Homo sapiens: one gene and its partners. The protein of the gene in region 2 interacts with the protein of the main gene of each other region in a pairwise test. Each region holds a gene or a part of one and is shown on either strand. Other genes may lie near its edges. The genes, in order: CDS2, CHAT, BAHD1 and TSC22D4.

The links.
Region 1: the proteins of CHAT (region 2) and CDS2 interact in binary tests that used the Homo sapiens proteins (3 or more experiments, as listed by UniProt).
Region 3: the proteins of CHAT (region 2) and BAHD1 interact in binary tests that used the Homo sapiens proteins (3 or more experiments, as listed by UniProt).
Region 4: the proteins of CHAT (region 2) and TSC22D4 interact in binary tests that used the Homo sapiens proteins (3 or more experiments, as listed by UniProt).

The regions. Positions count from the first base shown.
Region 1 is NC_000020.11:5,185,991-5,193,007, reverse strand, and holds part of CDS2 (phosphatidate cytidylyltransferase 2), read right to left. Parts: intron 6,322-7,017; coding exon 6,169-6,321; coding exon of another isoform or gene 6,149-6,168; intron 3,942-6,148; coding exon 3,822-3,941; intron 3,274-3,821; coding exon 3,170-3,273; intron 2,907-3,169; coding exon 2,774-2,906; 3' UTR 1-2,773. UniProt on the Homo sapiens protein: Catalyzes the conversion of phosphatidic acid (PA) to CDP-diacylglycerol (CDP-DAG), an essential intermediate in the synthesis of phosphatidylglycerol, cardiolipin and phosphatidylinositol.
Region 2 is NC_000010.11:49,609,242-49,617,043, reverse strand, and holds the start of CHAT (choline O-acetyltransferase), read right to left. Parts: upstream 3,008-7,802; 5' UTR 2,855-3,007; coding exon 2,569-2,854; intron 1,022-2,568; exon of another isoform or gene 992-1,021; coding exon of another isoform or gene 952-991; intron 543-951; coding exon 442-542; intron 1-441. Other genes in the region: SLC18A3 (vesicular acetylcholine transporter), read right to left, coding at 4,705-6,303. UniProt on the Homo sapiens protein: Catalyzes the reversible synthesis of acetylcholine (ACh) from acetyl CoA and choline at cholinergic synapses.
Region 3 is NC_000015.10:40,436,731-40,443,969, forward strand, and holds the start of BAHD1 (bromo adjacent homology domain-containing 1 protein), read left to right. Parts: upstream 1-4,222; 5' UTR 4,223-4,538; intron 4,539-4,679; exon of another isoform or gene 4,680-4,805; intron 4,806-5,709; exon of another isoform or gene 5,710-6,522; coding exon of another isoform or gene 6,523-6,595; intron 6,596-6,618; exon of another isoform or gene 6,619-7,239.
Region 4 is NC_000007.14:100,476,198-100,483,887, forward strand, and holds the start of TSC22D4 (TSC22 domain family protein 4), read right to left. Parts: upstream 3,018-7,690; 5' UTR 2,597-3,017; intron 2,111-2,596; 5' UTR 1,842-2,110; coding exon 1,080-1,841; intron 1-1,079. Other genes in the region: TSC22D4-C7ORF61 (uncharacterized protein LOC122198330), read right to left, coding at 1,080-1,841.

The DNA of each region.
Region 1 (7,017 bases), on a different chromosome or scaffold from region 2:
GAGCTAGAGGGAAGGAAAGCTGCAACACCTCGGTGTACTCACACGACGTTCACAAAAGCAAGCAGGGCTGGGGGACCCTCCAGGTGTCCTGTGGGTAAAGTGCAGGATGGAGTGAGTCCTGACTCCACCACACTATCCTGGGGAAGCTCCCTGCCTGGTAAGGTGCTCATGACTCTCACCCGAGGTAAGAAGGCTGTTGTGAGAATGTAGGGATACAAGTTGGAAAGCAAAGCAAAAGTCTCTGAATCAGGACTATGCAGTATTCATGAATACATAAACAAATGAGAAGCATAAAACCATGCATGGAAGTGATAAACAGGGAATTCACGACAAGGGAGGGCACACAGTTGCAGTCACATTTTATTTCTGACCAATAAAAAAAAAATGGGTCTAAAGCAAGTGATGCCATTCATGAAGATTTGAATGTACACACGTAAAAATGGTTTCTTGAATCTTGTCTGTGAATAGGAAAGAGAAACATTGTGCTATATGGACACAAGGTGGCAGTGCTCTCCTAGCTACCTGACAAAAAATCCTCATCTCCAGAAAGCATGCAGGAGAAATCAGAAAATAAAACACAAGCTGACCCTCTGGCCTGCCTGCTAGCAGCTCTAGTGCGCACTCAGCTTCGGCTTCCTAGACCCCCCTTCCCCACCCCACCCCCACCAAGTAACCACTTCCACAAAGGAACATGATGAGCCTTGCCCAGTATGCTCGGCTCCCTGATCCCAAAGGCAGCCCTATTCAAGAGCAGGTCTCTGCAGCCAGGCCCCAGCTGAGACTCCCTCCTCTCAAGGAGCCCACCATATGCCCACAATGGGACAAAAGAGACAAATGAGGAGCCCTTTCGGTATCTAGTTTGGTGATCCAGGTTCATTCTTCAATCTGAAAACTACAGTTTCGTTATTGATCACCTTTACTGTTCGGGTGTGCTGCTGAGATACCTACTCACCTTAAGGATAAGCATGTAAGGGCCTGAAAACACTTCCTGTTTGGGGGGTGCCCAGGACCTCACTTAATGAGCCTCTACCGGCATGAACTTGCTCAGCCAGAATCACAGAAGAGTGGAATTGGGAGTAGCTCCGAAAAAGAGGCCCTGGAGAGTGATGCATCCTGCCAGTGACACAGCCAATACTGAAATGAAAGCCCTTGCGATAATATGTTTTGTTTTTAAGGGGCCTTGGACCTGAATAAGAGAAGCCACGAGGCTGAAATGGAAATAAAAGTTCAGCGGAAAGAAGCCGCTTCAGCCCCACACACATATGGGAAGTCACTCAAGGATGTGTGAGCTGAAACATCCCGAGGGCTCCATCCTCTGCTGGACACTCTAGAGACCTGGGCTGACTGTGCACTTTCAGGGAGGCAGTGAGGCTAATTTACAAACAAAAACACCACAAACCAGCACTAGACCAAGGTGCAGAAGCAAATCATTACACCCTCGTTGGCAATGAAAACATCCACGGCACGGAATAGTTTGATATATTTGGGTGCCAAGTTCTCTCTCCCGCACTCCATCACTTGTTGGCCTGACAAAGAACTAATCTGTCTTCCCAAAGTCAATCTCACCCCTGAAATTAGGGAGGGGAAAAAAAATCACAGTTTAAGCAAACAACAACAACGAAAGGTCCCCCAGTACAATACAAACTACATTTAAACTGGTCACATTATATAAAAAGTGTGCATTTAATCTTCAAAATAGTCAAGGCTCTAATCAGGTTAGGTTTTCCATAGTTTTAAGCAGGACTTTGTGGTTTTAGTGAAGAAGTCATGGTGCAATTGAAATCACTGTAAGAAATAAGTGACTTTTAAAACAAACACAGACACACACACTCCTCTTAAGAGTAATATATACACAACACAGCAGCTACATGGGTGTTCAGGCAAAGGGTGCATGAACGAGAAGCCCTCTGCTCCCTGCCCGATGAGAAAGTCCCCAGAAAGGATTCAGCAGCAGCAAGTCTACAGCACAAACATGGATGGCATTGTCCCTGAAAACACACAGTTAGGTGGACCTACAGGAGACATTGGAGCCTAGACATGTGGGAAAGGGCTCAGTTACAGTACATTCTACTGCATACACTTGAAATATTACAGTGTGTTTTTTCTCCAGACTATTATAAATAATTTTTCGTGCTTTCTGAAAAAAATAAAAACTGAAACTTTCAGTCTGCGATGAAGGTGAACCCATCTTATAAAGCAGAGCTTACTTACATTCTGCAGGATTTTGGTGTGGATGCATAGAAGGCTTACCTGGTTAGTAAGCCTCCATTCCTCCGACCTACAGAAGGCAACCCTTCTGCAGCTCCAAGCAGGGATTTCTAGAAAAGACCAGGTGTACAAAACATCTAAGCTGTGCCTCCCACCACAGGTGGGGAAGTCCCCTGATTTGGTCAGACACAGATGAATGTCTGTGTCTGACTGAGCCCAGAAACAGTTCAATTGATGGGGGCTGGAACCACCAAGAAAACACTCCTGACCTGGGCAACACTGTCTTCCAGATTATTAATACTTTTGTTTTAAAAAAATCCAAATGGTTTTACAACCCGTGACTTCTTTCCAACTCAAAGCTGTAGTTTACTTACAACACAAATTCTAAACACATAGACTGTATATACAGATTTTTTGAACCCACAAATAAAAAATACCCTCCAAAAAAAAAAAAAAAAGACAGTGAGTTGAAGCCTCGTCATTGTCTAAGTCACACCAGCTGGGCTTGCCTTGGAGACCTGCCCCTGCTCAGTTCTGTTCCTGTTCTCCTGGCCCTGGGTGGCCCCTACTCGTCCTCTGTGGTGGATGTCAGCATCCCTTTGTCGATCAGATGAGACCGCAGCGTGTTGAAGATGTGGAGCTGCTGATCTGGCCGTAAAGTCAGGAACTGCTGAATCAGTTTGCTTGGGTTAGGGCCTCTGGAACAGAATGTGAAGAAACAGCACTGAGCTAGGGCCCGGAAGCTTCCAGGGCCTGATTATCTGAGTGGCTGCTCTGATCTCTGGATCAGAGAGTTATCTATTAACAGATGACAGGAGGCCTCAGAAAATCTGTAAGCAGAAACAACTGAAAACTGCATTATTTGGGATGCTTTTCACTGGAACTTAGATGCCGCTAAAATTCTAGAATTGCACCGTACTTAAAAATCCACCAACTTGGTTCAGATGGAAAGGTACTATACCTGATAAAACTGGCGATGTATACATTGACAAAGGTGGCCATCAGATACTGGCAGTCAAAGCGATCCATGATGCCTCCATGGCCAGGAATGGTATTGGCAAAGTCCTGTTAGAGGCAGGGGAAGGATGGGTGAACTTGGGCTCAGCCACTAACCAATCCCAGCCTAATGGTCCCACCCCAATGTCAGGCTTCTGTGCTGAGTAGCTGAGGGCAATAGAAGGTGAGAAGTATGAAATCTAATGGTGAGGCTATATTAGGACACAATTTTATTGCATTACAAAATGTTCTTATTTCATTTACTTAATAAAGACAGGAGTCTTGCTATGTTGCTCAGGCTACTTTCTAACTCCTAGCCTCAAGTGATCCTCCCGCCTTGGCCTCTTAAAGTGCTGGGGTTACAGACATGAGCCACTGCCTGGCCCAAAATGTTCTTTTGAAGAAAGATATATTAACAAATAAACTGAAAAACAACGATTGCATTTTCCTGAAAATATTGTTATTAATTAACTCACCTAAATTCAGTGCATGGGTCAAGATCACACATTAAATGCCAGGGTGTACAGCCTAGTATTTTGGAGGGGGCAGGGAAGGGGGAGAAAGGCAGAAGATGGGTGAGGGAGTGAGATGAGAGGAACGTAAGACGGTTTTCCTACTTTGATTTTAAAGGCTCGTTTGAATCCACTTGCGAAGAATCCTCCAAAGGGGCCAATGAGCGAGGCAAAGGTGGAGAGAGCGATGCTGTGAATCTGGAAGGGGTACATCCGGACCGTTTTCTGAGAAGAGTAAATGAAGTAAAAGTTTAGGTGCATACATGCCCAGTGTTACGGTTTGAGTTGTCAACTCATGTTGAAATTTGATCCTCATTGTGGCCTCACTGGGAGGTGATGCCTAGTGGGAGGTGTTTGGGTCACAGGGGCAAATCCCTCATGAATGGCTTGGTGCCTTTCTCCTAGTAGTGAGTTCTGTCAAGAGACTAGATTAGCACTGGCATCCCGAGGGAATGGGTTGTTATGAAGTGATGAAGCCCCTGGTTTTGCCTCTTTGCATGTGTCTGCTTCCACCTTTGACCTTCTCCGCCATGTTACAATGCAGCATAAAAAGCCCTCACCAGAAGCCAGGCAGCAGCCAATGCCACACTTCTCACACTTCTCAGCCTGCAGAAAGAAGCTAAGTAAACCTCTTTTCTTTGTAAATTACCCAGCCCCAAGTGTTCTATCAACACTAGACAGACCAAGACATCCAACCTCGTAACTCTTTATGAAACTAATTATATACATGTAGGTTTTAAATCAATAAGAGGAGTGAATTTTTCCCATTTTGTAAATTTCTAATATCTAAGTTAATGGAAAACATTAAAATATTCTGCATTCAATCTGTTGCAACATGCTGTTTTGGTGGAAGTATATAAAGAAAATCCAGCCGTACGCAGATACATAGTTGAAAAGAGTATTTTAGTCGTAGCCTCAGATGGTTTTGGGTATTCTCTGACACTACACCAGAGCTTGACAAGTAGTCATTTCTTGAATATTAGGTGTGATATGGAATCTAGAATTCTATCAATGGACTTTGTTCTCTCTTACATTAAAATCCATTGGTCTATCTTATACTTGAACGGATCTTTTACCCATGCATGACTATATAACACCATGCATCAGCCATTTAGAAAATAATGGTTCACTGAGTTATGTAAATCTTCCAAATGTAGACACATTTCATTATACCGTGTCAAATATGTTTGTGTTTTTTCTCATGTGATCAACACACACACACACACACACACACACGTACGTTAAGAATCATCACAGACCTCATCAGAAAAGGCTTTTAAGTATTAGGAAGCTGTCAAGTTCACAGTGGCAGGTTAAGCTTTCCAAAATTCTAATTTTCATTTGAAAGCCAAATTTTATCCTTGGTAACAATTACTGTCAGTCATTTTTCTTTTCTTTTTTTTTTTTTTTTTGAGACAGTCTCACTCTGTCACCCAGGCTGGAGTGCAGTGGTGCGATCTTGGCTCACTGCATCCTCCGCCTCCTGGGTTCAAGCAACTCAACCTCCTGAGTAGCTGGTAGCTGGGATTACAGGCACACGCCACCATCCCCAGCTATATTTTTTTGTATTTTTAGTAAAGACGGGGTTTCGCCATGTTACCCAGGCTGGTCTGGAACTCCTGACCTCAAGAGATCTGCCTGCCTCGGCCTTCCAAAGTGCTGGGATTTCAGGTGTGAGCCACTGTGCCTAGCCTCAGTTGTTTTCTTTAAAGTGATAGGCTCACTTCATCCTTTTCAAGAAAAATGTCTGCCAAATACCCAAGTCTGAAAAATTATAATTTGTTGGTTCTTTCCAAGTAAAATTTACTTTCTTTTCTAAAAAAAAAGCAGCTAATTTAGCTCACAACTCAAACAACTGCACACATGCTTTCCCTTTAGGCAAGCACTGTACTACAGTACTTAGCAGAAATGTTTTACACATACTTTCCATTTCAGTAGAGAGTGTTAAAAAGGTGTGTGTACAAAGGTCAAGATTTAACAAAATTAGTAACTTTACTATTTCATAGACATTCATTAGAACTGGCCTGTTTGTACTGTGAGTGTGTGGCATGAGGAACCCACTGCCTTAACGCAGTTTTAACCACTGCTGCTTTTGCGCCGTATCACAGCAAATGTCAACACATTGAAAAAGGAAAATAATGTCATAGTCTAATTATGAAACAGTTGTGACCTCACAGACCCCCCCACCCTACCCCCGCAACTAAAAGGATCCCAGGGCCCTCCAGGGATCCACAGAACACACTTTGAAAACCACTGGTCTAAACAATCTGATGTTGGGGGAAAGCTGTCCTGCCCATACCCTGACCTGGCGTGAGCAATTCTCCTTCATCCTGGGGCTTACAGCTTTGGGAAGGAGGAAGCTAGCTTTTTTCAGAGGGCAGGTGATGGAGGGGGATCTCTCTTTGTAGCCACTGTCCATGGAGGCCGCTCACCCCCTGTGAGTGGCACATACCCAGCCAATGACTGACTGGATCACCCCAGGAATGTTGTACTCCTGCAGGCGAAACAGGTCCGAGGGCTCACAGTCCACAGTGAAGCTGTTGGTGTCATTGTTGTACTCCACAGGGCAGACAAAGCATCTGTACCCGGACATCACATAGGACAGCTGAGGAGGAATAACAGAGAGACCGGCAAGGAAGTAAGTTCCAACCATCCAGCCCAGACACAGGCACCTGGTTTGGCCATGTTCCTGAGGGTGCCTAGTACCCTGCTAACTGCGAGCTATGTGCTCAGAGGTTCATGTTTTACCATACATATTTTACCTCAATTAAAAAAAAAAAAAGAGGCTCATGACCCACCAAGGTTACATACAGGAACCCAAACACCCAGGCCCCGAAAGAATCCGGGAAAACCTGAAGGGACTGGGGCAAAGAACTACAAGAAGACTCTCCCCATTTGGGGAGCTAGGACCACTTTCCTCAAGATCTCTGAAGTCAGTGATAACTGGAGAGAGGCCATGGGGAAGGGGCACAGTGAGAGGCAGATCTCAGGAGGAACAAGGCTGGAAAGCAACAAAGCTGGGCGGTGAGCACTGAAGGGCAGCCAGACAGTGCTGAAGAAGGAGGACTGGCCCAAGGGTCAGAAGCAGAGAATGGTGCTCTGGAAAGGGCAGGAAAATCACCCACCTCTGGGCAAGGCACACATAGGAGAAAAGCTGTGTATCTCATCTTCCCTTGGGTGCACTCACCCTGACCTTGGAACATCAAATGCCTGACAAGAAGGCTACCTGCTGATGTCACCATGCCTGGGCGCGAGAGGGCATAGAAGGTGCTCTCCAACTGCTAGCACCCTGCCTGAAAGC
Region 2 (7,802 bases):
TTGTCTCAGGCCAGTGGAGAACATGGTGCCTAAGGCTCCAAGGCTGAACTAGTGATAGCAGCTGGAGCTGGGACTTGCAGGGCTTGGAGTAGGAATTCAGCCCCACCCTAAGGCAAAATCACTGGGCTCAAAGCTATCAGAAGTGGAAGCTGGGATGAAGAGAGGCCCTGGAAGGAAAGATAGGGCCTAGCCTGGCCAGGGGATTTGGAAGTTAAGCTCTTAGCATTTCCTTGGCACCCTGAGGCCCGTCTCAGCCCCTCCAGGCCCTTCTGGGATCCTCAGCAAGCTGGGGGTGGAGCTGTAGCCTGGGCCTTGTGCCAGTAGAGGGCAGGGCTGGGGCCAGGCAAATGCTGGGGGCCAGTCCCACTCAGGACTGTTCTAGAAGCAAGGGCATGTAGGTGGGGAAAGCAGGGTTGAGAGAGGGCTCCAAAAGTCACTCACAGACTCCTCACTGCTGGGAGTTTTTGCTGCCATCTTACGGGGGACCTTTTCCAGGATGGGCGTCTTGGTGAGTCCTGGTGCAGGGATGCAGAGGTGTGGACCTGGGGACCAAGAAGTGGGAAGCATCAACACAGCAGCCACATAGGCCTGTCACAAACCCTCCACCTCCCGCCAACAGACCCCCACCCCAGCCCCATGAGGAGGCCAGAGCCTGACAGCTGTGTATAGGGGTCTCATTGCAGGCGTGGCCCCAGTCTCTACTTCCACCTGTACGTGCTGACCACAGTGTTCTCTCTGGGCCCCCATATGGGAGAGAGTGGTTCCTAAAGTGAGGGTCTGCTCTCATGAGTCTGTTGTCACCCAAGGCCAGCTGACCACCCTGGGGCAATCCAAATCCACCAGGGGTTGCTGGCAGAGTGCTGCCTTTGTTCCTGCCTGGAACCCAATAGATAAGTGCTTTGCCAATCAAACTCTCTCTTTCCCACTAGCTTCTCAAGGGTAAGACCATACCTACTGTGCTCAGTGCTTCATCTCTGCATTCCGGCCACATCTCTGGTGTGGAGTAGGGTGAATTCCCTCACTCCGTTGGTGGAGGGAAAGGAATGCATGCGTGGGTGAATGGAGGCCTTTAAGGCCCTGTGCTCCAGGATGCATCTGGGCTAATTGGGAGCCTGGCCTGTGGCCAGGGCAGGGAGACTCTGGGCCTGCTGGAGGCGTTGTGACCTAGGCAGTCTCGGGTCTGCAGGCTGCCAGTGTAGATGCCATAGGAGTGCCCAGGGAGGTATGCAGGGAGGCTGGGCAGCCAGGGCCCCTAGGGGCCACCTGCCTTAGTCTGGGGAGAGGCAGATTAATTTTGAAGGTACAGTAGAAGTGAGCCAGGCCAAGAGGGCAAAGACTGTTATTATTAGGCTGTGGGTCACAATTGCTACCCTCTGAGATCCCCCTGAACCTAAGCCTCCACAGGCACATACTCATGTTTTCCACCAGCCCACCCTCTATTCTCTCAAGTCTAAAGCTGAGGTTTAGCTAATTTCCTCACCCCTCTCCCCACCCAACACCACCCCTACCCAGAGGCAAGCACCGCCCATGTATGGGCACCTGGCAGGGTTGTTGCCAGGAACAGAGAGTCCAGAAAGATGGATGAACCAGGCCCAAGGATGGAGGAGCCTGGGGCTGCCTTGCAGTGCTGGGCAGAGAATGTAAAGCCCTTGCTGGCACAGTGCAGGGACACTCTCCACAGGCTTGTTCCCACGCCTCCCAGTGCTGTGGGTTCGTAGGGGCTGCCCCCAACTGCAAAGTGAAAGAGGTGGCGTCCTGGTGAGGATTCACCGGAGCATGGCAGTCTTTTGAGAGGACAGCAAGGACAAGGTCAGGTTGGTAAAGGCCCTACAGACCATGCAGCCAATGCCTCCTTTTGCTCTGGCCCAGAGCCCCCCCCTCCCCCCCATTCGGGAGACACTAGTCAGGCTTCAGGGACCCTGAGCTTGAAGAAGGCAGAGCTGGGTGGGATGGTTTCCTGGTGGTCCCACCTACCAACTCTTCTTCCTCCATCACTCCTGGGCAGATGCCTAGAGGATGTATGTGTATATATGTCTGTTTGTGTTTTGTGCCTCCCACCCATGCTCCTGCCAGCCTGGCTTTCCAAGGGCTGCCTGCTCTGCCCCGAAGGTCCAACCCCAGTCTGGCCGGTCATTCACAGGCTGTCATCGGCTATGTCCTGGCTCAGACTTGCCACCAGCCACTGCTCCTCCTTCCCCACCCCCTGCTCCCGGGAGAAGCGGTTGCCAACCAGCAATTCAGGCGAGTCGGGTCAGACCCAAGGACCCTCCGACTAGACACAGAAAGCGCGGACCTGGTCACTTAGCAGATGCTGGGCCAAGTGAAGTGAGAACATGCGCTTGGAGTCCCGAAGCCCTGATGGTTAAGCCTCCCCAAGCCCAGGCACCGAAGCAACGCAATCCTGCAGCTTCCTAGCTGACCCCCGACGGCCGCTGCTGCGCAGGACTCAGAGGACTCCACGAGTCCTGGGGCCTCTCGGCCCCGGTGCTGTCCCTGGATAGAGCCCCCGACCGCCGCCCTTGCTCCCGGCACCGCGCTCCGCCAGCCCAGCCCAGCCCTTCTTCTCACCTGCTCTCCTCGGCTCTGCTGCCTCGGCCGACGCTGCACCGCACCACTCAGGAGTGTGGGCGGGGGTGTGAGCCGGAAGGGGTGGGGGGCGTGTCGCAGCGCGGGGGTGGGGGCTGCAGCCTGGGTTCCCGGCAGGGCCTCCGACGTCGCCCGGGTCCCCGCGGCCACCCGACTGGAGAAAGCAAGCTGGCCGCACTTCTCTCCTTCCTCTTGTACCTCCTCCCTCCTCTCTCTTCCATTTCCCCCCTCCCCCAAGCCCCCTCTTCTTCGCTGTCCTCAGCCCCATCCCTTCCCCAGCTCCCCGCCCAGGGATCTCAGCTCCCGGCCCCCAGAATCTACCCGGAGCGCTTCCCGGAGGAACTCGGGCAACAAATTTAGGCTCTAGAAGGGGGCACAGAACACTGTCCCGCCCATGCCTCCTGCCCCTAGCTCAGCATTTCCCAGTCACCGCACTTCCCCAACCCCATTATTCCAGCCTTGGGGTGCTGCTGCTGAATCCTGGAGAGGGTTGGGTCTGAGGAAGTCTCTGCTCGCTGCCCTCCTCTCCCCACCATCCAGGCCAGTCTCAAACCCTGCTACACCATCTTTCAAAATAATAATAAGAAACAATAACTGGGATCAATATTCACTGCAGGACTTCCCTTTCTGTTACCATCCCATTCCTGCTGGCACTATGGGGTGGGGAGCAGAGGTGGGGTGCTACAGACTTGGGACAATCCTGATGGCAGACCTGAGGATGCTTAAGGACTGCGGCAAGAGGCAGGCTCTCCTCTCAGACAAAAGCATCCCCCACCCCAGATAGAGACCCCCACACAGAAATAGCACAGACAGACCGACAAAGGCAGACTCCGCCCAGGCACACACAGCCCGACTCGCAGATCGAGGACAGACATGCGCACAACAGCAGAGCAGACCCTCACAGGCGCAGCTAACACACAGGCGACCCTGACCAGCCGCCTCTTCACGCTATGATGGGAAGACTCTGCCTCGATCATCAGACTACGGTCTTCGGGACATGGAGTGTTGCGCGAACGCTGGCTTGAGGCTCTCAGGGCTGGGACTAAGGATGGGAAACTTTCCTGACAGTCCTGGGCCGCTGCTCCCACTCAGGACAGGGTGGCAGTGGGGGTTGGCACCAGATCCCACACTCGCATCTCTCCCTTCAAGACTCAGACCCTCGGGACTGACAGGGATACAGCAAACACCAACCACGGCTCCCCCACTCCTCCTAGGACAAGTTCTCTAATGAACACACACATCACATCATACACACATTTCCAGAGGTCGGACTCTAAAAGATGGGCCGTTTTTCTTCCTCTGCCGGAATGCTCGGCTCCTACTCCTTTCTCAAAGCCTCAACGGGGCGGGATTCTGGTCTGAAGGGAAGCTCAGCCCAGGCACCTCAGAGCTCTGAGGCTGGTGTGGGGCGTGTCCTCAAAGGGCGGGGCCTGGCGTGCCTAGCTGGAGCGGGTCCTCAGGCTCCCCCGGGCGGCATCCCCGGGCTCTGCGCTAGGCCTGGAAAAGAGGGTCTATCCTGGGCTGAGGGGAGCATGGTGCTCCTTGGTGACCGTGGGTGACAGCCTTTGTTGGGTTTGCTTCCTTCCTATCCCCTTTTCCAGGTAGAAAAACAGCTACAGGTGCCTACGTGTTAGTTTGGCTTAGGTCTGGATTGGGACTTGGAGACCCAGTTCACCCTCCCCTCTGCTCTGGCCCTGCGCGCCTCCACGCACCCCCCACCAGTAAAGAGACTCGGCCTCCTGGGACAGACACAGTTTATTGATTTGGGCGGAGGCGCCGCGGTGCAGCGGCCCAAGTTTGGCACTGGGAGCAATGGAAGGAAGGACAGACAGATGCAGGCTCTACACAGGGGAGCCGCAGGTGGGGACTCAGGGTCCTCTTCACCTCCGCAAGGAGCGCGATGGCTTCGCTGGCCTCGGTGCTCCAAGCCCCATTGGACAAGAGAGAAAGGGATATGGAACGGGTCACAGGGAGGGGATTTGGGCAGAAGTCAAGGTTGAGGAGTGGCTGGGGTACTCGCTGGAGGAGGTGGGCCCTGAGCCAGAGCTGGCCAGTGGGCTTGCAGAGCAGCCCCCTTGACCCAAGGCGGTTGGGTGGGCTGGAGGAGGAGTGGGGATGCTAGCTGCGGGTGTAGTAGTAGTTGTAGTCGTCCTCGCACGCATCAAAAGGGCCAGGCGGGCTGCGAGGCTCGCCGTCCTGGCCAGACACAGGACGCTCACGCAGGCGCACCGCATCGTACAGACCTTGCGGTGGCTCATCAAGCAGCACATCGCGCTCGGAACGGGAGCGCGTCAGGAGGCCCACGTTGCGGAGCAGCAGCAAGACGGGAGCATAGAGCAGGTTGGCCAGTCCCATGCCAAGGCTGAGCTGCTCAAAGCCCAGCGAGTGCACAATGTGGCCTGCCACTATGGGCCCGAGCGCGTAGGCCACCGAATAGGAGATGTCGGCGATGGCGTAGACGCTGCCATAGACTGAGACATGGCGCACGTCCACCAGGAAGGCGAGCGTGGGCAGCAGTGCTGTGTCGACTAGGGCTATGCCAAAACAGAGGCCGCATAGTGAGACCACTAGCGGCGCGAAGGAGCGGCAGGCGGGCACGATGCACGAGCTGGCGCCGATCACAGCCAGCCCAAGCGCGCCGTACAGCCACTGCAGGTGTGGGTAGCGCGCCGCCAGGCGCACGGTGAGGTAGACGCCCAGCACATGAGGCACGAAGGCCGGCAGCCAGGCCATGCCCATCTCCCACTCGGAAGCCGCCATCGTATGCTTCATCCACGTGGCAATGGTGGGTTCGAGGAAGGCGAGGGGAATGTTACAGGTGGTGAGCGCGCCGGCCACCACGGCAATGTAGGGGTCTAGCATGAGGCGGTGGATGGGAGTGCCCACTGGCAGGTTGGCCCGAGCCCGTGCAGCCGCCGAGAAGGGTTTGGCCACTGCCAGCAGCAACAGCGCGTCAAAGAGCGACACGGCAGCTAGCACCAAGAAGGGCACGCGCTTGCCGGCGAACTCATAGAGGATGCCCCCGAAGGGCGGGGCCACTAGGCTTCCGAAGCTAATGAAGGCCAGCGCCACGCCCAGTGCACGACTGCGCTCCGGCTCCTCCGGGTACTTATCGGCGATCATGGCTATGCCAGACGTGTCGGCGAAGGCTGAGCCCAGGCCCTGCAGGCTGCGCGCCGCGAACAGCGTGGCGTAGTCCTCGGCGAAGGCGAACAGGACTGTAGAGGCGAACATGACGCCCAGGCCGATCAGCAGCGGCACGTCGTAGCTCATGCGGTCGATGAAGGGCCCGCTCAAGGGGTTCACTAGCAGCTGCAGGATAGCCTTGGAAGCAAACAGCACCCCGATCTTCACGTCTTCGCTCTCCGTAGGGTAGCGGGGCCGAAGGGCTGAGCCCGCTGGCCACGCAGCTGTCGGGGACGCCGAGGTGTTGGCCGTGTAGGCGCTGGCATTGGCCGGAGTGGGCAGCGGCAGGGTGGGCTCCCACACCTCGGGAGTCCGGGTGGGGCCCTCGCCGCCCCCGCGCATGTGGGCGATGTAGTCGGGCACTATGGGCACGATGACCATGTACAGCATGTTGTCCAGTAACAGCGCCACGCACACGATAACAAGCACCAGGCGCCTCTGCCGCCGGGGCTCCTGCAGCGCCGCGCCCACAGCCTCCGACAGCTTGGTGGCCGCCGCCCGGGCCTGGCCCGCAGGTTCCGCGGATTCCATGCCCCCACCCCGATGCTCTTCCGAGGACGCCTCCGCCAGGGCCGAGCGCTGGCGTCCCGCAGTGCAGAGGCGAGGGCACGGGACTTCGGGGAGGCTGTCCTGGCCGAGCAGACTCCCCTGTGCCTCAGGTGGCCGCGGAGCTCATGGCCCAGCGTCCCGGGAAAGGAAAGGACTCCGTCCGGCGAGGCGTTGCAGCTACTCTTAGCCGATCCCGGGACCCGCGGCTGCTGGGCTCAGGGGCGGCCGGGAAGTCGGGCGCGCCGAGGGGCCGGGGCCGGAGACTGGGCGCACTTCGCCCGGGGCGCGCCCAGAGCAGCCCCCGCCGCGCTAAGAGGCCGCCCGCGCTGGCCGAGGGACATGCTGTTGCCGCCCGCCCGCTTGCCCGCCCGTTAGCCCCGCCGCTGCGCTCCCCTCCCCTCGCGTCGGCTCTTGCCTCCTCCGCCGCCTCCTCTTTTTTTTTCCCTTCCACTCGGGGCTGTGACGCGGCGAGTCCCAGCCCCCGAGTGGTGCCCGGGCCACTTACGTCGCTCATGCTAATGCGACGTCGGCGGGGCGGGGGCCGGGGGCGGGGCGTGGCCGGGCAGGGGTCCGCTCTCCAGATGCTCCAGGGCTGGAGGCCCAGGAAGGGCTCTCGGTGTGGAAGTCTTGAACCAGCCCCTGGGATGGGCGTTCCGCGCCGGTAGCTGGCCCTCTGCCCCCCGCCCCCTGCCTGCCCCCCGCCCGCGGTTCTAGGACTCGCGGGGTCAGCGCCCGCTCTTCTCCTCTTGGGGAAGGGGGCGCGGCAGCCGGTTCCTCGAGGCCCCTTGGGAGAGGCGGGAGCCAGAGGCTTGCGATCTCCGCTTCAGCCTGGACCTCGGCGCACAGCGAGCAGGAAGCCCCCGAGGTGAGCCGCCGCTGCGTCCATCTGTTCTCGCAGCTGGATTGTGGAGCCGCGTCCGGAGGAGCGCTGGACACGGACACCCCCAACCCTTTCTCCGACTCCGCCCCCTGGCCCCTTGCACACACACTCCCGCCAGGAGGGGAGGGGAAGGCTCAGCAACTGCCTGGCCTGGCTCTGACCCACCGGCCCCTCCGCAGAATTTCTCGGCCGCGAATCGCGGCCGGGAGCTTGTGGGGACTGAGGGCAGAAGTTGCCGCGCCCCAGTCGGGGTCGCGAATATTAGCCTGGCCGCTGCCGCCCTCCCGCACTGCCTGGCCACATTCCCCTTGCCTGGAATCCCCCTTTCTCCTTTAGCGGTCTGGTCCCCCAGCTCCGCCTCTTCTCTCCCCGCCGCCGCACCCCCTCCCCACTCTAACTCCTCCCAGGCACTCTTCGCACCCGACCAAGCCCTCCCTCGGCTCCTGCCAGCCTCCGCCCCCTGTTCTGCACACTCCCCCATCCCTCATTTTCCAGAGCCTCCTCCAAGCCCCGGGTGGGCTCTGGAGTGACTGTGGCTGGGGTCCTCTCTTGGAACTGTAAGAAACCCTTCTTGGGTGCCGCGCCCACTCCCCGGAGAGCG
Region 3 (7,239 bases), on a different chromosome or scaffold from region 2:
ACGGTAGTCGGGGGTGTGGGCGGGGTGAGAAGGACCCCGGGGACACTCCGATTAGGTCTGGAGACAGCCTGAAATAGGGTGTAGCCCGCAGTTGTTGGGGCTGCGGAGGAGGCGACTGGGGTGAGGGGCAGAGAATGCACCCCAAGAGAAAGGCATAGGGCCCCAAAGAGGGTAGGAGACGGGATTCAGAGAGCGGGAAGGAGAATGCAGAAACAGCTTTTACGGGGAGAGGCAGACTGCAAAGACGTCCCCTGGCCGGCAATCTGGAGGCTAGCGCTGGGCAGATGGGGGTTTTGGACACAGCGCCATGGACATGTGTTCCCCAAAGTCTGAGCGCATGCAGCCCCCTTGTTCCTTCTTGTGCGGAGACTGAGTCCCACACAGTCCCTACCTCACCGGGACCTCCCCACCCCCAAGGCCGGGGCCGTAGTTGCCTTCAGGGGAGGGAGAGGTCCTGTTCCTCACTGGGCACTCAACAGCTGGCTCCTTGGTGGTAGGAGGGTACCTTGCCCCTCCAGCTCAAGAGTCAGGAGGAGCACTTCTACCTCCTCATCCCTAGGGAAGAGGGCCCCCGCAGGTAAAGACCAGACTTCTGCACTAGGATTTGCCTGGGGGGCAAATAATTTCTGGAGATCCCTTTAAGGAGGGGTGTTCCAATCCCTTTAAGAGGGAGTGGGTCACAGCAAAAGGACTATAAAAGTCCAGCTTTCTTTATTCCCCCACCCCCCAGGGGCTTCCTATGATGGGGGAGGGGGCAAGTGCTGCTGCCGCATTTAATTGTTGCCTTGGTGTCCCTCCCCCAAAGAGCTGTGCCCTTCAGTTCGTCCAGTGGGGCTGAGGAGCCGGGTGGCTCAGTAAGTATTGTGGGGACCTAGACTTCAGGTGCTCTGGGGGTTGGGACAGGGGCTGCCCCACTTCCAGGAAAGAAGGTGGGACCTGGGCAGGGGCTGGAGGGAGGAGAAAGTGGTCACTGCCACCACTGCAGGGACTGCACTGCCGTTGGGGTGCCCTGCCTGGTGCCAGGTGGTTGGATCTCAGGCCAGGCGGTCTTCGGGGACTGCAGCGGGCAGTGGCGGGGAGGTGCTGGGGCTGGGCTGGAGATGACCGAGCAGCCAGTCTGTCCCGGCTGTCAGTCTGGTTGTGTGTGGTGGGGGAAGGGTGCGCCGCGTGGTCTCTCTGGCCCTGGATGTTTTACTCTAGGGCATCTCCCTCTGAGGCAGTTAACCCTTCCCGATGGGTCTGGAGGTGTCTGGGGAGAGAGAGCCCCTGCCTGGCAGCAGCCCGGGAAAGACTCCGGAGACCCGATGGACCCATTCCTCTTTCTACACCAAGTGCCAAACCCTTTTTTCAGTGGGAGACCTCTGGGCTGCCAAACATACCAGGGAGAGGAAAGGTGATGGGCCCCAGGCGTTGGCACAGCTGCCCAGTGAAGTGGGGTGGAGGCAGCATTCACTCAGGAAAGGTTACAGGACCGAAGGAAGGAGGAAGAGGTGGAGCCCTTTCCAGCTGTGGAAGGGCTTTGGACTGGGAAAGAAGGAGGCCCAGTTGCAGAGGTCCCTGAAAGTTGGGTGAAGGAGGCTAGGAGAGGCCAAAAGTTCCCTTTGGGGGACAGGCAGGGTGTAGCCCCTGCCTATTCTTTGCTGGCTTGTTTTAACAAGCAATAGGGAGGAAGGGGGGACAGAGGTGGCTCAGTGAGCTGGCACAGGAGGAACACTTAGTGCCTTTAGCCAGCCCGTGTCCCCGCACCATAGCCCACTCAGTCAGAGCCTCCTGGGGCAGCGGACACCGCCACCCACACTGGAGGCTCTGAGGGGAGAACTCCTCCAGCGGCCAGGCAGGCACTTGGTGGGCTGTCATGACTACTCTGCCTCCTCTCCGGTTGGTATTCCTTCCTTTCCCTCCCACTGAGACCCCAGATAAGACAACACTCCCCTGCTCACCCCAGGGCCCTCTAATGCCAACACCAGGAAGACACCCAATCCTGCCACCTCGTCCTGCTGCCATTTCCTCGGCTGAACGTGGGCTTCCTGCCACTTAGGTCTCCTTCCCTGCCACCAGGTACATTCCTCTTCTGGCCCTCCCGGCCTCCATCCCTGCCCATTATCAGGCCTGAAGTGGCTGCCAAGGTCAGCGCCGCCTGGGCTGCAGACAGGAGCCCGGCCTCTCTTCTGTCTTGGCCTGTAGCATGGCTCTGCCCCCGTGGCCACCACTGCTGTACCCTCCACCACCAATCTCTGACGAGTGGGGGCCACCGTGGGGTTAATTTGCCTATGGGCCAGACTGGGACAGGGAGAGGGGGAATTCTGTGAGGTGGGGAGTAGGGCTGGCCTGGTGTGTGTTGGGGGGGCGCTGCCGGGAACCTCTGTCCTGTCCAGGAAGGGGAGAAATCTTTCAGCGTCCTACTTTTACAGCTTTGGGGTTTTGCTTTCCCCAAGGGTGGGAGGTGGGAGAAGTGGCAGTGGGAGAACCTGGACCTTCGAGACATTTCCGTGCCACAGTTTTAGCTTTTAGCTTCCATTCACACACTTTCCCTGCTGAGGGGGCCCCTCCTTTAAGTGTGTCCCCCCAAACAGCTAAGACAGTCTGGGCCCCCTGGACAGCTCTGGAGGCAGATGGGGAACTGCTTCTGGGGGAGGTTGTTTCCCAGCCATATTGGCTAGCAGCCCTGATTGTCTTAAAAGGCTGCCTGGGTGAGCGCTGGAGTCCCAAGGTCTAGGAAAGGCTGGGCGCTGTGTGTGGTGCAGGAGGAGCCCCTCCGAAGCCCCTGGGCCACACTCCAAGGCTGGGTTTTCCTTGCTTGCCTGGGCAGCCTCAGCACTCTGGGTGCCTCTCTCTGCCCAAGGCGTTCCTGGGGCCCAGCCCCTCCCTGGGCTGCTCCAGCGCTCTGGTGACTTGACACTACCCTTTCTGCCGCTGCTCCTTTTACCTCCTAAAGCTCCCCTCCCCCGCCTGAATTGGGAATGAGGCTTTGTTCAGGGGTGAACTCAGCATTTCTCGAGAACCTACTGTGTGCATATCCCGGGCTTAGTGAAGTCCTAGGCGGGCTCTGGCACCACCAGGTGCCCAAGACACAGCTCCTTCCCGCACCTAACAGGGACTTCCCATCTCTCTCTGTGCCCTTAGCCTGCTGTGCCCACCCACCCCACTGACCCCGCGAGCGTGCTCGGGCTTGGGAGGGCACGTCTGTGGGGGTGAGAGACGGAGCCACAGCATTTGGTGACTAGGGGGAAGCCAGGTAAGTGTCTACACTTGGTTCTCCCGTAGCTTGGGGACGCGAGGGAGGGAGTCCAGCCGCTCCTGTCAGGCTGCCCGCCCCTTTCTCCCTCCCCCGGAGAGCTCTGATGTTCCCCGCGGTGGTGGAAGAGGGTGTGTGGGTGTCAAGGACTCACAGACCAGGCTCTGCTGTCAGCTGGAAATGGATGAGGGCTCCACACTCTGCTTCTGAAGAGGGTGAATTAGGAGCTGGGGTTGGGGGCGGTAGGTGAAGGGCAGAAAGAGGAAAAAGAGATGCGGGTGAGGGGTTACCGAGCCAGGACCGACCTTGCTGGAAAGGAAAGGAGACGTGGCAGGCAGGGAAGTCGGAAAGATGAGGCAAGGGCGGGAGGGGCTTCTCAGCAGTCGGGGCCCTTTTGCAGGAGTCTGGGGCCCTTTCTGCAGGAAAGGGGGGTTGTTCTCGCTTGATTTTCGGCTGGTCTTCCTGAAGCTTTGCCCTGGGGGCAGCAGCCTCCGGCGAGGATGGGGTGTTCCTCGGCCCGCAGTTTTCTCCAGCGCGTGCTGGGGAGGATTTGGGGGAAAGGGGATGCGGAGGGGTGATGGCCAGGGCGGGGGGAGATAAGATTTTTCCGGGGGGGCTAGCAGCTGGGAGATTGGGGTCGAGTCACCGTGGGATACGGGCTCAGGTTCTGAAGACGAAGAGAAAAATCCAAGAAGCCGGCAAAGAAAATCACCCCTTGCCACCACCCTTGGCACGGCACCCCTCCCCCAAGGCCCCACCACTCCCCGCACCGCCTCCCCCGGCCGCCTCGTGCTGCCCCCTGCGTTGGGACGACCGACCCACGGTTCTGATTGGTCAGAGACCGGGAGGGGGAGCCGAGGGCCGGATTGGCTGGCGGAGCCAGCGCAGGGCGGGGCGGCTGATTGGCGGAGCTGGCCGAGGGGCGCGCTGCTGATTGGCTGGGGACGAGGAAGCAGGAAGGAGGGCGGCGGAGGCTCCGCTCTCGGGGAGTTTGTGGGGGAACCGCGAGCGGCGTAGCGGATCCCGGAGCCCGGCCCCCGCCGCCCGCCCGTCCGGCTGCCTGCCCCGCCCGTCCGGCCCCCGCCGTCCGCCCGCCCCGGCCAGGCGCGCCCGCCCCCCCCGACGGCCCCGCCCGGCCGCGGTCCCCGCTCCGCCCGCCCGGCCCCGGCCCCCAGGAGGAGGCGCTGACGCAGCAGCGTGGAGCCCGGGAATTGAGCGCCCCCGGGGGGTTCCAGCCGCCGGATTCCAGCCCGGCCGGGGCCTGCGGGCGCCCAGAGCCGCGCCGTCCGCGCCGCCCGTTCTGGTGAGTCAGGGGCCGGGGTCGAGGAGGGGGAAGGGGCGAGCTGGAGGGAGGGAGCGAGCGAGGTAGGCAGAAGAGCGAAGGGGGAGAGCACCGGCCGCCCGTCAGCGCGCCCCACCGAGCGCGCCGCGCCACCGCCCCCGCCAGCCCGGGAAGGGACGGACGGACGGACGACGCGAAGCAGGTGCGGCCGCCCGCCCGCTCGCGCCACCTCCCTCCCCTGGGTCCGGCACCACGGTCCCGCCATCGGGGAACGCGGCGCGCCTCGAGGTGACAGCCCCCGGGGGCCGCCCGCCTTGCAGGCCGGGGGCGGGGTGGGTGGCGGCCGCAGGGTGGCAGCTCGGCCGGGCGGCGGCGGCGCGGGCGTCCCGAGCTGCGGAGGGCGGGAGGACGCCGGTCTTTCCTCGCCGCGGCGGAGCCGGCTCGCCTCCGAGTGCGCGGGCGGCGAGGCCCCCGCCGCGCCCCCTCCCCCATCGCGGTCCCCGAGGCAAGGGGCCGCGGCCGGGGGCGGCGCCGCGGGATCGCCCGCTCAGGGTGGGGGGCGCCCTCCCGCGCTGGGAGCTGACCGGTTATTGCTGGATGGGGGGCAGGGGATGAGGGCCGCGCCGGGCCGGGGGCGGCAGGGGGGAGTAGTGTAGACCCGACTCGATCGGGCTGAGAGGAAGGGAGGCGCCGAAGACGGAAGGGGACCGGTTCGAAAAGCGAGTGTGGGCCGCGGGAGGCCCTGCGGGGACCTTGCGGGGCGGCGGCCGAGTCCGAGGTGTGGCGGGGGGAATCGAAGTTGTCAGACCGCCTCCAAGTGACAGCGGGACCCTGTGCTCGCGGCCCGGCCTGGTCTTGCCCTGCTCGCTCCGCCGCCTCTCTTCTGGGGCTGGGGGCCGGGTCAGGTCGGGCCCGAGGGGCTCGCTTGGCGGTGAAGCGCCGGACAAAGGCGGCGCCGGAGCGGGCGCAGGTGGTGGCGTCGGGGAGGGGAGCGGGTCCGAGGCACCCACTCCGAGGGGCGGGCGACGGGGCCGGACTCTGCCCCGGGGACTGCGGGGGCCGGGGCGCCCGCCGGGAGGAGCTGCGGCACTGGCTTGCCGCTCTAGCCGCTCGCTGTTGGCCTCGAGGCTCTGGGAAGTGGGGTCTACTTGCCGGGGGCCGAGGGGCCGGGGTGGGGGTGTATGCTCATGATGTGCCTTGGCTGGTGGCGACGGGGTTGCTACTCACCGAGGCGACAGACCCAGTGAGCCGCTGTAGAGCCTGTCAAGAATGAGGGGTTTTTCAACAAGCAGAGTCTGCCTACAGGCAGAAGTCTAACCCCACCTGGGACATCTCCTAGTCGCCCATTGTCGACAGTGTTAGAAGTGCAGAAGACTAGTTTGATTAGGACAAGAGACACCCCACCCCGTGGGCTCCCGCCAGCCCTCCGCAGCTGCCTCCAGCACTTTTCCTTAGCCACAAAGGTACCCACTTAGAAAAATGAGAAGCTGAGTTTATAAATCCAGGCAGGAATTTAATAATGAAATAAAAAGCTTTCCAGTCCTTTTACTTTGTGCCACCTGAGACTTTCCTCCCTACTCTCTTCACCTCGCTGTCTTCCACAAAAAAAAAGAAAAAGGGCCCAGAGGGACCACATGTCTTGGAGGGGCACCACTGTCCTTGGCCAGCTTGGAGGATGCTTAGGAACCACTGGCTTAAGCTGTGAGTGCCTCCATCTCCCCCGGTGACCAGCTGTGAGCTGGATGTTGTTTACCTGCTTGGAAAAACTCATTCAGAGCTCCCATGCCCTCCATGTGAACCCCACACCCAAAAGAAGAGTTGGGATCATAAGGACAGGGAAACTCAGGCTGTTTCAGAATGTGGATTTTGCTGAGAATCTGAGTTCGAGTCCCACCTCAGGTAGGGCTGGTTAGAAGCCGCTCTCAACTGTGGTTGGCTGTAATCCCACCTGGGAAAGCTGCTTGTCTGCCACTTCAGAGGGTAGCATGGGCATGGGAGTTTATTCATGGCCACCCCCCATGGACCTCCCTGGAATGATCTAGACCCCAGCCTGGATGGAGCTGAGGCTTGTGAGAAAGGTAGGTATTACCTCACTCAGGAGGCTAAAGTTTGTTCTGAGATAATTTAATTGCATGTCTAAAATCCAGAGAGTGATGATGAATCTCAAGGCCTTTGTGCCTTCTGTGAGGCTACACGGCATGTGATTTCTTTTGGTGGCAGTCAGAAGGGGATGACGTGGTCTGGCCACTGGAATATGAAGGGGAGTTGCCCAAATAGCATTTCCCTCTTTGGTAGGGCTCTTACCTGGCAGGAGACTCATGCCAGTCGGATCTGGTGTTAAGGAGGGTTTGCTCCGGAGAGTTTAGCCAGTGATTAGGTTCTTTTTGATATCTCCCTCTCTTTCTTCCTTTCTGTTGTCCTGCTGTCCCCGTGTCAGGCCTGTGTTGTTGTTATAGCCTCCCTTTCCCTCCTGCTTCCTTTGGCCCTTCTGATCCAGTCTGTATGCAGCTACCAGGTCATTCTTCCTAAAACACCCCTTCCCGGTGTCACTCCCTTTCTCACAGACTTGCAATGGCTCCCCGTTCCCTGCAGTCTGACCCTAGACAGTGTCCCCTCCAGCTCTTCCCTAGCCATACCATGCACATTTTTTCTTCCTGCATCTTCACTGCTGCCGCTCCCCTTCCTTTACTCCCACTTGAATCCCACTTGTCCTTAGTCTGGT
Region 4 (7,690 bases), on a different chromosome or scaffold from region 2:
GGGTGGGTGCTGAATGCAAGAGTTCAAGAAGAGTTGGGGGAGGGGGGGTAGGAGGGGGCATCACGAGAGATGTGAGCTTGAGGCCAGGAGGGGTTTGGGGGGAGCCAGTCCTGACCGGTCCTGACAGGACCCAGACATCCAGTCCCAGGTTATTTTTATACTGTGGTTTGTGCCCAAGGCCAGGAAGGGGAAAGAGTTCGCATCCTCACACTCCCTGCCTTTCCCCAGACCTCCGAGGTGTTATATTCTCCCACAGGACAGAAGTATCCAACCTTCTATCTCTGGCTGCTCACCCCCACCATGGGGACCCAGGCATCCTGCCCCCACAGCCTGGCTTGTTCCTCTTTTGGAGACAGGAAGGAGAAAGAGTATGGGACTGAACTCCCTTCTGGGGCTCTTCTCTCCCACTCCACAGTGGTCACCCTCGAGTTATCAATCACAGAGAGGCTCAGATGGACGGGGGTGAGCCAGACAACTGGGGGGTGAAATGGATCAACCAGCAGGCCCCCTCCCTGTCCCTGAGAGGTGTTCCCCCCACCCAATTTCTCAGTGACACTTGGCTTACAGCAAAGCTGGAGGCAGGACTGAGATGGGTGGCTGGGGGAAAAGAAAGACCCCCACATTCAGGATGGGGCTGCAGTGCAGAGACTGGCAGCGCGCAAGGCCTACCTTTTACTTTTCCTCCCCAAATCCTGGCAGCTCCTCCCCTAGGGACCCAGCTACCCAGCTATCCAGCTGGGGCCTCCACCCTCATCACCTAGAGGCAGAGGGGCTGAGACCAAGACAGAAGAAGGCCTGATGAGGGGGCCACATATGCTACAGGCTACATGAAGACCAAGACAGAGAATCAGAGGCCAGGGAGAAAGAGAGAGGGTGCAGAAAAACAGGAAGGAGGCTGAGACAGAAAATGAAGTAGGAGGAAGGGGCTTCAGAGTGACCTGGCAGGCACAGAGAAGAGGGCTATCTGATCTTATAAAGTGATGGAGAAGGAGGAGGAGAGGGGGGGGAGGAGGAGGAAGGAGGCTCAAGATAGAGGTTAGGCCAGGGCTGATGGGCCAGCCCTAGAACCCAGGTCTTACCTGCCCCATCTCTTCTGGAGCACCCAACTCCATCCGCAGCCGCATGTCTACAGCTTTCCTCCGGGACAGTGGAGGGGTCCTGGCCCCTGAGCCCCCAGCCTCCGCTTCCACCCTCAGAGAGGGCAGGGGCGTGGCAGCCCGGGATGTGCCCGCACTCTCACCGGTCTCAGGCTCTGGGGGGCGCTGCTGGGGTGAGGAGGCCGACAGTGGGGGTTTCTCTGCCTTGGCTTTGCTGGGCACCACCAGCTGGCCCAGTCCCCCAGTGAAGGAGCGGGCCTGAGGTCCAGGAGAGGTGGGGGGTGGACGGAGCCAGGAGGTGGGGCCCTGAGACAGGCCTGACGGTGGGGTGGGGGCGCCCAGGCCGAGGCTGGCCAGCTCCAACCTGGAATCCAAAGATCTGCCCCCGGCGCCCCCTGAGGCCCCTCGAATTCCCTCCAGGAGTCCGCCGAAGCTGTGGGGCTCCAGGTCTCGCTCATAAACATCCACACACGTCCAGCGACCGCGGCGATAAGGCTCTCCCAGGCCGTGGGGCAGCTTCACCACCCGGAAACGGGAGGAAGGGGCCCCAGGTGGTGGGGAGCCATTCCGGGGGGTGCCCTTGCCCCCCGGATCGGGGCTGGGCTCCCCATTGGGCAGGCGGGGCGGGGGCCCGGTTGGGGGCTGTGGGGTAGGGGGATCCGAAGCCCCTGGGCTCCCAGGGCCCTCATAGTCCGTGGTGACGCTGGTGATTTGGAAACTACTCTTCTTCTTGCCCCCGCTCATGGTCCCTGGGGCTCAGGGCTGGGCCAAGGTTGGGGGTGGGTTGGGGCTCCTTGAAGGGGCTCAGGCACCCCTGGAACAAGGGGGCCACATGGCGGGGACATCCGAGCCCCTGGGGACGTCTGGGTCCGACATGGCAGGAGGGCCTGGCGGGAACCGGGGGTGCCTGCTGGGTGAGGGGAGAAGAGGAGAGGGGAGGTGGCGGGAGGGGGGAGCAGGGGCAGGTTTTTCCTGCTGCTGTTGCTGCTGAACTCCAGAGCTGAGTTTGCAAACTGGAAAAAGAGGGGGAGAGAGAGAGAGAGAGAGAGAGAGAGAGTGTGTGTGTGTGTGTGTGTGTGTGTGTGTGTGTGTGTGTGTGTGTGTGTGAAACCAGTGGGCAGGCCACCTCCGGGGCTTCCTCTCCGGGGAGCAGAGTGGGGGAAGGGGAAACCGTCAGAGACCCAGAGACAGGCAAGAGATGACAGAGACCAGGGCAGAGGGGACTGGATCCAAGAAGGCACTCAGAGTAGAAAGAGGCAGATGAGTCCCAGAGTTGGGCATTTCTCGCCTGGGATTCTGACTCAGGGGGCCCGTATTGTCCCAAGAGCTCGGACTCCAGGGCCTGGGAGAACCAGGCTGAAGCAGCTCCCCAGCCTGGCCCGGCCACTCAGAGAGACCTCTCCTGGGCCTCGAGCCCCCACCCTCACCCCAGCTCCCACATCTCTGGGGCAGGCCCTGCCCGGCTACCCCCCAGCGCCCCACCCAGCCCTGAACCCTACCTCTGGGGCCTCGGCCACTGATCTGAGCCTGAGGGTCCCGGCGCCTAAGAGGTCGGGCTGTCCGTTCCCTGGGGCCTCCTGGCCATGGGCAGTGGCGGGGCACGCAGGCGGCGATCAGAGGCTGTCCCGTCCTCTCCGGGGGCCGCGGCTCATCCTGCCAGGCATCTCCGAGGAAAGTTTGCTCTCCGGAAAAGAAGAAACCCGCGCCTCCTCCGAGGAGCCTAGGAGCGGCCTCTGAAGCCCCAAGGGTCTGGAGACTGATGTGGGAGGGGGCGGCCGAGCCCCCCTCTGCTCCCGGTGGCAGCCAGCGAGTGGGTGTCCCGAGTCTCCTCCCGCGTGACCCTGCTGGGTCCGTGTCTCCGCTCCTCGGCTCCCCTGGGTCTCTGCCTCTCCGTCTTTCTCTTTCTGGGCTGTTGACAACCCCCACACCAGGAAGTCCTGCCTCCTCGGGCCTGCTGACTGCTCCTCTCCTCCTCCTCCTCCTCCTTCCCCTCTTCCTCCCCTTCCTCCTCCCTCCCTCCCTCCTGGGGCTTCCCGCCAGCTGGCCCGGGGCCAGGCCTGCCACAGCCGCTGCTGTTGCAGTTGCTGCAGCCACTGCTTAGGCTGCTGCTCCTGGGGGCCCCAAACAGACTCCCTTAACCCCACACCTGCCGGGCCCTAGCCCCACTCTTGCAGGGAGGGGCTGCAGGGGGCGGGGCTCGGGGAGAAAGGGGAGGAGCTTGCAGGGAGGCGAGGGATTCCCTTACTTGTAGTCAATTGCTGCCATTGGCCTAGAGACACACAGAAGAGACGGAAGGCACAGGCCGGGAGGTGTGCTGCATGCCCACCCAGAAGTTCCCAGTCCCTGCTGTGGGGCAGCTGTGGCTGTTACTGTCATTCTCCTTTGGTTTTCACAGCAACTGCATTATTCCCCCCATTCCTTATTTTTAAAAGTGGATTATTGCCGGATCCCGGTGGTGGCTCATGCCTGTAATCTCCGCACTTTGGGAGGTCGAGGAAGGAGGATCGCTTGAGACCAGTTTGGACAATATAATAGCAAGACCCCATCTCTACAAAAAATAAAAAAAAATAGCTGGGCATGGTGATGTGCACCTATAATTCCAGCTACTCAAAGGTGGGAGGATCGCTTGAGCCCAGGAGTTCGTGACCAGCCTGGGCAATATAACGAGATCCCCATCTCTACAAAAAATTTAAAAAATTAGCACTTTGGGAGGCCGAGGCGGGCGGATCACGAGGTCAAGAGATTAAGACCATCCTGGCCAACATGGTGAAACCAAGTCTCTACTTAAAATACAAAAATTAGCCAGGTGTGGTGGCGGGCACCTGTAGTCCCAGCTACTCGGGAGGCTGAGGCAGGAGAATCACTTCAACCTGGGAGGCGGAGGTTGCAGTGAGTCGAGATCACGCCACTGCACTCCAGCCTGGTGACAGAGTGAGACTCCATCTTAAAAAAAAAAAAAAACTGAGTGTGGTGATGTATACCTGTAGTCCCAGCTACTCAGGAGGCTGTGAGGCAGGAGGATCTCTTGAGCCCAGGAGGTTGAGGATGCAGTGAGCCAAGATTGTGCCACTGCACTCCAGCCTGGGCAACAGAGTGAGACCATGTCTCAAAAAAAAAAAAAAAGTGGATTATTATGAAAATTTTCAAACATGCCATGCAGACATGGGGAGACCATGCAAACTCCACACAGATGGTGGTCCCAGCCCAAAATCAATTTTTAGAAAATCATCAATGTTATAATGAAATGACATTCAATGAAATGACATTGTGTGGGGGCCAGCTGTAGTTTGCTGGACTATTTGAAATCAGATCCTAGATGTTATACTATTCCCCTTTCCCCCAACCTGCCCCCGCCTTTTTTTTTAGAGACAGGGTCTCTCTCTCTCTCTGTTGCCCAGGATGGAGTGCAGTGGTGCGATCATAGCTCACCACAGCCTGGAACTCCTGGGCTCAAGCCATGCTCCTGCCTCAGCCTCCCAAGTAGCTGGGACCACAGACACACACTACTACGCCTGGCTAAATTTCTTTAAAAAAAAATTTTTTTTTTTGGTAGAGATGGGGATCTTGCAATGTTGCCCAGGGTGGTCTTGAACTCCCGGCCTCAAGTGATCCTCCTGCTTCTGCCTCCCTAGTAGCTGGGACCACAGGTGTATACCACCATACCTGGCTAATTTTTTAGTTTTTGTAGAGACAGGTTATTACTATGTTGCCCAGGCTGGTCTCGAATTCCTGGCCTCAAATGATACTTCCACCTGGGCCTCCCAAAGAGCTGACATTACAGGCGTGAGCCATGGTGCCTGGCCTCAGGGAAATTTCTAACCCCTCTTTTTTTGAGACGGAGTCTCGCTCTGTCGCCCAGGCTGGAGTGCAGTGGCTCTATCTCGGCTCACTGCAAGCTCCACCTCCCGGGTTCACGCCATTCTCCTGCCTCAGCCTGTAGCTGGGACTACAGGCACCCGCCACCATGCCCGGCTAATTTTTTGTATTTTTACTAGAGACGGGGTTTCCCCGTGTTAGCCAGGATGGTCTTGATCTCCTGACCTCGTGATCCGCCCGCCTCGGCCTCCCAAAGTGCTGGGATTACAGGCATAAGCCACCACGCCCGGCCTCTAACCCCTCTTTAGGGGTACGTAAAAATAAAACAATGCAATACCTACCCTCTTTATGTATTTATTCTTTATCTCTTTGTTAGAAGCATCCACACTTCTGTTTCTCTCCCTTAAGCCATAGTAACAACGGCTGCCATAGCCCAAGTCTGTGGGCCTCCCAAGTAGTGAAGTCTGGGAAGCAGCCTCCCACCTGCTCCCTACCCCTCTAGACTGCATCCCTCTGTCCCTTACAGAACCTTTTCTCCTCTAGCAACATTCAGAACACAGCCTTGGTCCCTCCTTCCCCAGACCCTCCTTCCTTCTTGCTGACTTGCTACAAACTATTCAAAAATTATCTTTGGGCAGTCTCTTTCTCTGCCTCAGGCACTGGTATCTGAGTCTAGAGGCCCTGGCACATTGTTGATCTCTGCAGAAATGTTTGTTGAGTAAATACATACAAATTTTTATATTTTAATTTGAGATGAAGTCTTGCTCTGTCACCCAAGCTGAAGTGCAGTGGCGTGATCTCAGCTCACTGAACCTCCGCCTCCCAGGTTGTGATTCTCCTGCCTCAGCCTCCCGAGTAGCCAGGATTGTAGGCACCCGCCACGACGCCTGGCTAATTTTTGTAGTTTTAGTAGAGATGGGCGTCTCATCATGTTGGCCAGGCTGGTCTCGAACTCCTGACCTCAAGTGATCTGCATGCCTCAGACTCCCAAAGTGCTGGGATTACAGACGTGAGCCACTGCTCCCGGCCTATACATATAAACTAATCATACTAAAGGTATAAATGTGAAATGGGTTTTAAGTGTTTTAATATTTCCCTCCCCTGGGAGCATTCTTAATAGCCTATAATATGTGGGACCTTTTACAATTTACAAGGCACTTTGGTATTATTTTACTACCCCTCCCCTTCCAAAGAATGGACTAAAGCCAGCTTGTCCAACCGCACGGGCAGCTTGTGGCCCAAGACAAATTGGTAAATTTTCTTAAAACGCCTAAGTTTTGGTTTTTGTTTTTGTTTTCGTTTTTTTTTTTTTTTTCTCTGAGACAAAGTCTCTCTCTCTCACCCAGGCTGGAGTGCAGTGGCCCGATCTGGGCTCACGTCAACCTCTGCCTTCCAGGTCAAGCGATTCTCCTGCCTTGGCCTCCCGAGTAGCTGGGATTACAGGCGCAGGCCACCATGCCCAGCTTATTTTTTCTATCTTTAGTAGACACGGGGTTTTGCCACGTTGGCCAGGCTGGTCTCAAACTTCTGATGTCAGGTGATCCACCAGCCTCGGCCTCACAAAGTGCTGGGATTTACAGGCGTGAGCCACCGCGCCCCGCCAGTGTTAAGAGTATTTTATGTGTGGCCCAAGACAAATTCTTCTTCCAATGTGGCCCAGGGAAGTTAAAAGAGTGGACATCCCCGGACTAAAGCGTCTCTCAGAGAGGTTGCACGATCTGCCTAAAGCCACACAGCAAGACTGCAAAGACGCTGCCATGGAAAGTAGCATTCGCAGGCTCCAGGGATCAGGCCGTGCCTATCTTTGCCGTGCCCATTTTCCAGCCCGTGGAAGGTACAACCGAGGTCTTCTCGAGCTGATTTACCCCCGCTGCAGAGCTGTGAGCCCAAGGGATTTCAGAGGGAGTTATTTCTAGGGGAGATAATGAGAAAAGAAAAGATAAATGAGAAAAGGGGAGGTCGAGGTCACGTCCCGTAGCGGCCCCCCGACAGTGCCAGGGTGGTAGCCGCGGTGGCCACACTCAGGTCGACCCTGGTCGTTGCGAGCGGCGCCGGGGGAGTCAAAGGTCACGAGAGGAGGACTCGGGCCACGGGGGCGGATAGCTTTGAGCCCAGACGGTGGAACGAGATCCGGGCACCCCCGGGAGGCTGCAGGGGGAGGCAGCCGATTCCCCCGCGAGCCAACTCAGGTGCTCTCCTGGCACCTGGGGGCGGTGGGGAAAGGGGGCGCGGCCGCCGGAGCACGCCCCCTGCTGGGCTGAGCCGCCGCCCGTCCCGTTCCCCACCCTCGGAGCCCCTCGGCCCGGAAAGCGGCACCCCCTGGCGGCCCCAGCGCCTCACTGCACCCCGGGCCCCGCAGCCGCAGCCTCGGCCCCGGACCGACGCTGGGTGCGGACCCGGGGCGCGCCGGGCGTACGGGTTGCACGGGGTGCACGGGGTACACGGTGCGGGGGCGTGGGCCCCAGGCTGCCGCTGGGGGGCGCCGCCGCACGCCGCTCCGCCGGGGCCGGGGAGACCGAACTCAGCACCGACCGGCCGGGCAGGGGGCGAGGGGCGGCGAGGAGCGGACGCCCAAAGACCGCGACGGGCTGGCGCCGGGCCCCCAGCGCCCCACGACCTTCCTCCGAATCTGCCCCCGCAGGCTCCGCGGCTCCCCCGCCCCGCGCCCCAGCCCCACGGCCCCGCGCCGCACGGCCGCTCCCGTTCCGTCCTTGGAGGGTGTGGAAGGGTGGGTTTGGGGCCGGGGGCGGGTCTGGGGGCGGACCCGGAGGCGGGGC